Linked DNA regions of Homo sapiens: region 1 is linked to region 2. Evidence: fine-mapped expression QTL. A gene starts in region 2. The other region holds a variant in brackets. All regions are shown on one strand. Distances are between the middles of the regions. Region 1 overlaps SLX4IP (SLX4 interacting protein). Region 2 holds the start of SLX4IP (SLX4 interacting protein).

Region 1 (2,915 bases), 28 kb before region 2:
AGAGTTCAAGAGCCAGCTGTGCGGTGGCAGTGCCGCCTGTAGTCCCAGCTACGTAGGAGGCCAAGTCGGGAGGACAGTTTGAGCCCAGGAGTTCATGTTCAGCCTGTGCAACATAACGAGATCCTGTCTCTAAAAAATAGTGATTAAAAAAAAGAATTCAAGGCCAGAACCACAGCCCTTAAAAACAAAAAAAAAGTATTCATATGCAGGAAGGTCAGATGGGTAAGTCGTTTGCATGAATAATTAATGCCATTCCAAGGGCAGTCTTAGAATAAACAACCCAGATGAAGTGTCAAACTATTTGGTGTTCATCAATTTTTCTGTTACTTTGAAACCCTGCTCTAACCAAGTACTTTTCAACCCAGTCAAAAGTGGCTGCATCTATGTGAAAAATTTGCATAAGTTAATTAATTCCTTTTAAATGTTATTTATTATTATTGTTTTTAATTTAGAGATGGGGTCTCACTATGTTACTCAGGCTGCTGGTCTCTAACTCCTGGCCTCAAGTGATCCTCCCTCCTGGGCCTTCCAAAATGCAGGGATTACAGATGTGAACCACTGTACGCAGCCTACATTTTATTTATGCACTTAATTTTTATATTAATGCATAGACACATATTAAAACGACATATCAAAGTGAGGTCTCAAGCTGGGTGTAGTGGTGCACATCTGTAGTCCCAGCTACTCAGGAGGCTGAGGCAGGAGGATTGTTTGAGCCCAGTAGTTCAAGATCAGACTGGGCAGCATAAGGAGACCCCATCTTTCAAACAAACAAACAAACAAAAAAACAAAATGGCCTCTTCTGCCTCATCCAGCCCCCTCTCTCACTCCAACTCTCACTCACCATGGGCAACCACACTGAAACTTAGCTTTTTGATCTGGTAATTTGCCAACATATTTCTAAACACTATGTTTATCCTACGAATGTCTTATTATTTCAGTTTTATATACTTTATGTGGAAAATGAAGACTTAATCCTTATACCTGCCCTCCCACATGTTTCCTTCCCCAGCCTTCCAAAACTTGGAGTTCACAATATTATGAAATGTAACCTCTGTTCAAAGCTGAACCATGCAGGAGGATCACTTGAGCCTAGGAGTTCAAGGCCGCAGTGAGTTATGACTGTGCCACTGCATTCCAGCCTGAGCAACAGGGCAAGACCCCATCTCTATAACAAGAAGAACAAAAAGTTGAGCCACGTAGTA[T/C]ACTATGCTTAATTTCCTATCTTGCACAATCTTTTGTTTACTGAGAACTGAGGGTTGCATCATTTTTCTTTTGTTTAGTTTTCTATATTCCTATGACTAAATCATTCCCATGCTACCTGACAGGCCTAAAAAAATCTCTTCTCAATGCATTTAAATACATGATGTATTTTATTCATTTCATTTTTTGTTGAAGAAATCTTTCATGGAACCCTCTGTCTTCTTCCAATAGGACTGGTTACTTTGGTTGCAGTTCAGAAACCAATACCCAGAAATATAACACTTTGACATGCTAAACTAAAAAAGCAGCAGCAAGGTCTCTCTGACCTCCTCCCCTCCTCCTCTCAATCCGTTATCTCTCCCAAAGCACAAGATGAGGCTCTCCGCTGAAGCTCTATTATCTGCCCAGAAACTGGATACCCAAAGAGGAACACAATTGCCTTCCATATTCCCTGAAATTATCTATAGCAGAGAAGACTAAAGAATGCAACCACACAGTGGACAGGCATTTCAACTAGGTATTATCTGCTTCTCGGCTCATTCAAATTCTAAAGAGAATCATTTACAAGTTAATTTCTGTCTCTCGAGTCCATTCATTTCCCCTAAAAATCAGTTACCCCTATATCTCCCAGTTCCCTCTCCCCAACGAAGAGGGTATTAAGGGTCAACCGTCTGGCTCTTTGGGTTTTCTTTTCTTGTTGTTGTTGTTTTTAGAGACAGGGTCTCTCTATGTTGCCCAGGCTGAACTCAAACTCCTGGGCTCAAGCAAATCTTCTGCCTCAGCCTCCCCAAATGGCTGGGACTACAGGCATATGCCATCACATCCAGCTTTTGAGTGTTCATATTTTGTATGACTCCCATGCACTTGTGTGCACATAATAAATTTGTTATGCTTTCCTTAGTTAACTTATTCTTTTGTTACAGGAGTGCTGACTGTGACCCTCCATGATGGGGAAGAAAGGATCATACCCTTTCCACCCTTACACTTTCTAGGCAAAATACACAGTAATCATCAAGGAATTTGGTTAGGCCCTCATCTGACTGGTTCCCTATTTCCTGGATCCCATATCTGATTCTTTCTCTGTTTATTCCCCTATTTTGGAAGACCACATCCTTTCTAAAACAGTGTGCATCAGAAGGGAAGTGTTTTCTACATTCTGCATCCTAAAAATAAATGTCTCTATTCTACCATGTGACTGAAAGTTGGGCTGTAAAGGGAATTCTTGGTTGGAAACCATTTTTCCTAAAATATTAAAGGTATTGTTCTACTGTCTCCTAGTTATTGCTGTTGAGAAGGGTGTTCTGATTCTTGATTCTCTGTCTGTAATCTGTTTGCTTTTTAAGTTCTTCTCTAAATTCCCAGTGTTCTGAAATTTTAGGATGATATACCTTAGCACAACTCTTTTTCATTGACTTTATTGTGTATTCACTCACAGCTCTTTCAAACAGGAAGTTTGTATCCTCCACTTCCAGTAAATTGTATTGCATTATTTCTTTCATAATATTTTCTCAACCATTTGTTTTTCTTTCTAGAACTCCAATTTTTCATATCAAGACTGAAACTCTAATTTTCTTGTGGTTTTCTCCTCAATTTTTTAATCTATTATCTTTTTGTTCTACTTTCTGGGCAGTGTTCCTTGGTGTTTGCCCCATACTTTATCATATTTTCATTTATATTATGTTTTTAATTTATAAGAGCTCTTTCTTGTTCTT
Region 2 (2,915 bases):
TACTAAAAATACAAAAATTAGCCGGGGGTGGTGGCGCGCGCCTGTAATCCCAGCTACTGGGAACGCTGAGGCAGGAGAATTGCTTGAACCCGGGGGGCGGAGATGGCAGTGAGCCAAGATCGCGCCACTGCACTCCAACCTGGGCAACAGAGCGAGACTCCATCTAAAAAAAAAAAGAAAGAAAGAAAGGGCTGTATCTTTAGCCCATGCCCTGAATCAATGTTCCTTGAACTTTAAGGTACACTTCTTGAGGAAGATTCTGATTCAGCAGCTCTGGGGTGAGAGTCATGAAGTGTAATTCTAACAAGCTCCCAGGGATGCTGATGCTGGTGGTAGGTGAAATGAACTTGGAGCAACAAGGCCCTAAGTAACTGGAATATTAGTTTTAACGCTAGCCAACTGGCTTACAAATATCGTTATGTCTAGGATCCAAGAAGTAAGTGTCAATACCATTAATTCCTACACCCGGCCAAAAAAATTAAAAACTAAAAATAAAAAAAAATAGTTCAGGGGAAGGAGAAAGCAAATACTTGTTTATACAGTCTAGCAGTGCTAAGAACCATAAAATACTGTTATTTGTCTCAACCTAGTAGATGTCAAGGTGATAAAATGTAGGCTCCATGAGTTAATGGATTTTTTTTAGCTAACTCCTGAATCCTTATGGCCTAGCACAAATTAGGTACTCAAGAAATGCAATGAATAAATGAATGAATGGGAAGTATATACAAACGCAATCTGTATTTACCTCACATCTCCAAAAATGTCTGGGAAGGGGGAGGTATTTGTACTGCTGGATGCAGGTAGCCATGATTTGATACAAATACCTGGCCCATCTACTGCATTCCCTTTGTGCAAAGACAGTTAACTTTCCTGAATAATATCTCCACCGTAATGCCCATGCTCATGGCATCCTGATGTTTAGCAACTTTTTGGCTTTTTGAAAACAATGAAGAAAGGTGGAAGTACAGGGAGAAGGATTCGGAAAAGTCTCAAAAAATCAAAGCCAAAAACCAGGAGGGAGGAGATGGGCAAACAGTTCAGTTCACTTGAAGGAACATCTGAGGTTGTCAGAGGTCCATGTGCTTACCTATGATGGTGGCGGGGTTTGGGCTCGGGCTTTATATGTTTTGTTACTGTCCAGGGTCACTGGCGGAGTAGTACCTGGCTGTGGAAACTCGGACTACACAGGTAGCCGGAACTGCAGCCAACCTTCAGAAGCTTAAGGGAAGCACTTTCGCGCTTACTTCCTCCTTCCCAGGGTCTCCGCGCGCGTTTGGGAACTCAGCCGCCGCCCAAACACAAAATGATCTGGGCAGCTTCGCTGCAGGATTGAGGCCACAGCCAGGATTTAAGATGGCAGCGAAACACTTCGATGGCCCGTGGAATCTGCCCAAAAGAAAAATGGCCTCTGTTCAGAATATCGCGGCTTTCAAAGTGGGCCCAAAACAAAAATGGCGCCGGACGCAGGCTATTTTTAAAGGCTGGGACCCCAATGACTCTCATTAGCAAATAACGTATCATGGTAACTCACGGTGCTAGGCAGTTGAACTGACCGAGAGAAAAAAAAACGCTTTTCTGTGGTGTGTTTTCTTAACATTGGAAAATGACTAGCTCAAGAATGGAACATATATTCGGTGCGAAAGATTGTGAGAAAGGAAAGGTAGCTTTCACAGTGCCGGATAAATTTTAATAAAAATAGCCATGTTTGAACATAACTTCCTATATGTTTTTTAATGTTAAAAGAGAATAAAAGTTTTGTCCTGGAACCCAGAAGCAGGATGGGGAAATGCCGGGTGAATTATCTAATCTGTGAAGAGTACGAGCTGCGAAACTCCGCACTTCCCTGTAAGCCCTCAGGAAGGACTGAGGGCGGATGCTTTAGTAGAAGGCAACTAGCTCTCACGGCGCATGTCCGTTTTCCAAACCCGATCCCGGGAGTTACGGGAGAGTAAAAATCCTGATTTTCCAGACAACCGCACAGAGAGGCGGGATACTGGCGCTGAGCGACAAATCCAAGCGCTTTGTAATTGGTCATGTCAGGACAGAGAGCAGAGCGCAGTGGACTATTTCTTTCTTTCATTCAATAAATCATTGTCAAGCGCTCACCAAAAGGCAGAAGCTGTGCCATTTTGATATGTTATTTAAATTTTATGCGTTCTTTTAAAATTTCAGTTTCAACAATTTGCTGGAATATACGCTGAATAAACTTCGCTCCCCGTTTTTTCCGGTGACGGCCGCTGTTGGCTGGAGCTTCACGGAAAACCCGGAGAAGCGGAGTGGGGGCGGCCCGGCGTCGACCGCAGAGCTGCGCGTGCTCCGTGCCCTCGCGCGACGCGAAGGTTGTCGGGATCCGCGGCAGCAGCGGCTGCTTGAGATCTGTTTCTGGGGCCTCTGGCGGTGGCGGCCTGGGGCGGCGCGACGGCTGGTGCGCAGGTGAGAGCGCTGGGACTCTAGGTGGAAAAGCCCGCTTTGTGTCCGGCCGAAGAGAGGGGAAGGGGCTTGTAGGCGCCTCCCTCTCCACCCCCAAAGGTCACCGGTGTCCTCACTGAAGGATATTTGAGGGCGGGGACAAGGAGGAGGCTGGCTCTCTGTAGGAGGCGAAAGACCGACCTCTGAAATAGCTGCCGATGGTAAATGTTGCGGTCGGCACGGATGCGGGCGGCGAGGAGGTCTTCCCGCCGGTGGGGAGAGCTGGAGGAGTGGCGCCTCACCACGCTCCCACCTGCGCTGCCGCCTTCTACGCCGAACCTGTGACTCCCCGTCCCCTCCCTCGCTGGGAGGGGCCCCGTGTGCCCCTGACTGTCTGGAGGGTGCACGGTGTACCCCAGGCTGTCGGGAGGTGGGGGCCGCCCTCCGACGGCGTTAGAGACGTTGTGCAGCGTGGCCCTGCCAGCTACGTGAAAGCAGCCGCGGGG

The links. PIP is the estimated chance that this variant, and not a neighbour inherited with it, causes the effect.
Region 1: its variant is fine-mapped to the expression of SLX4IP in whole blood (TOPMed, PIP 0.99).

The regions. Positions count from the first base shown.
Region 1 is chr20:10,462,054-10,464,968 of GRCh38, reverse strand. The region is part of intron 2 of SLX4IP (SLX4 interacting protein); the gene reads right to left. Among named protein-coding and RNA genes, the nearest start is that of SLX4IP, 28 kb to the right of the region's middle. The variant T/C (reference allele first, on the strand shown) is at 1,206.
Region 2 is chr20:10,433,626-10,436,540 of GRCh38, reverse strand. It overlaps SLX4IP (SLX4 interacting protein), which reads right to left and starts at 1,236. Exons shown (of 8, transcript NM_001009608.3): 1 at 1,088-1,236. It overlaps MKKS (MKKS centrosomal shuttling protein), which reads left to right and starts at 2,319. Exons shown (of 6, transcript NM_170784.3): 1 at 2,319-2,433. It overlaps LOC128706665, which reads left to right and starts at 2,319. Exons shown (of 3, transcript NM_001394148.2): 1 at 2,319-2,433. LOC128706666 reads left to right here and starts at 2,319. Exons shown (of 3, transcript NM_001394149.2): 1 at 2,319-2,433. RefSeq lists enhancers at 1,083-1,132, 1,293-1,522, 2,413-2,472.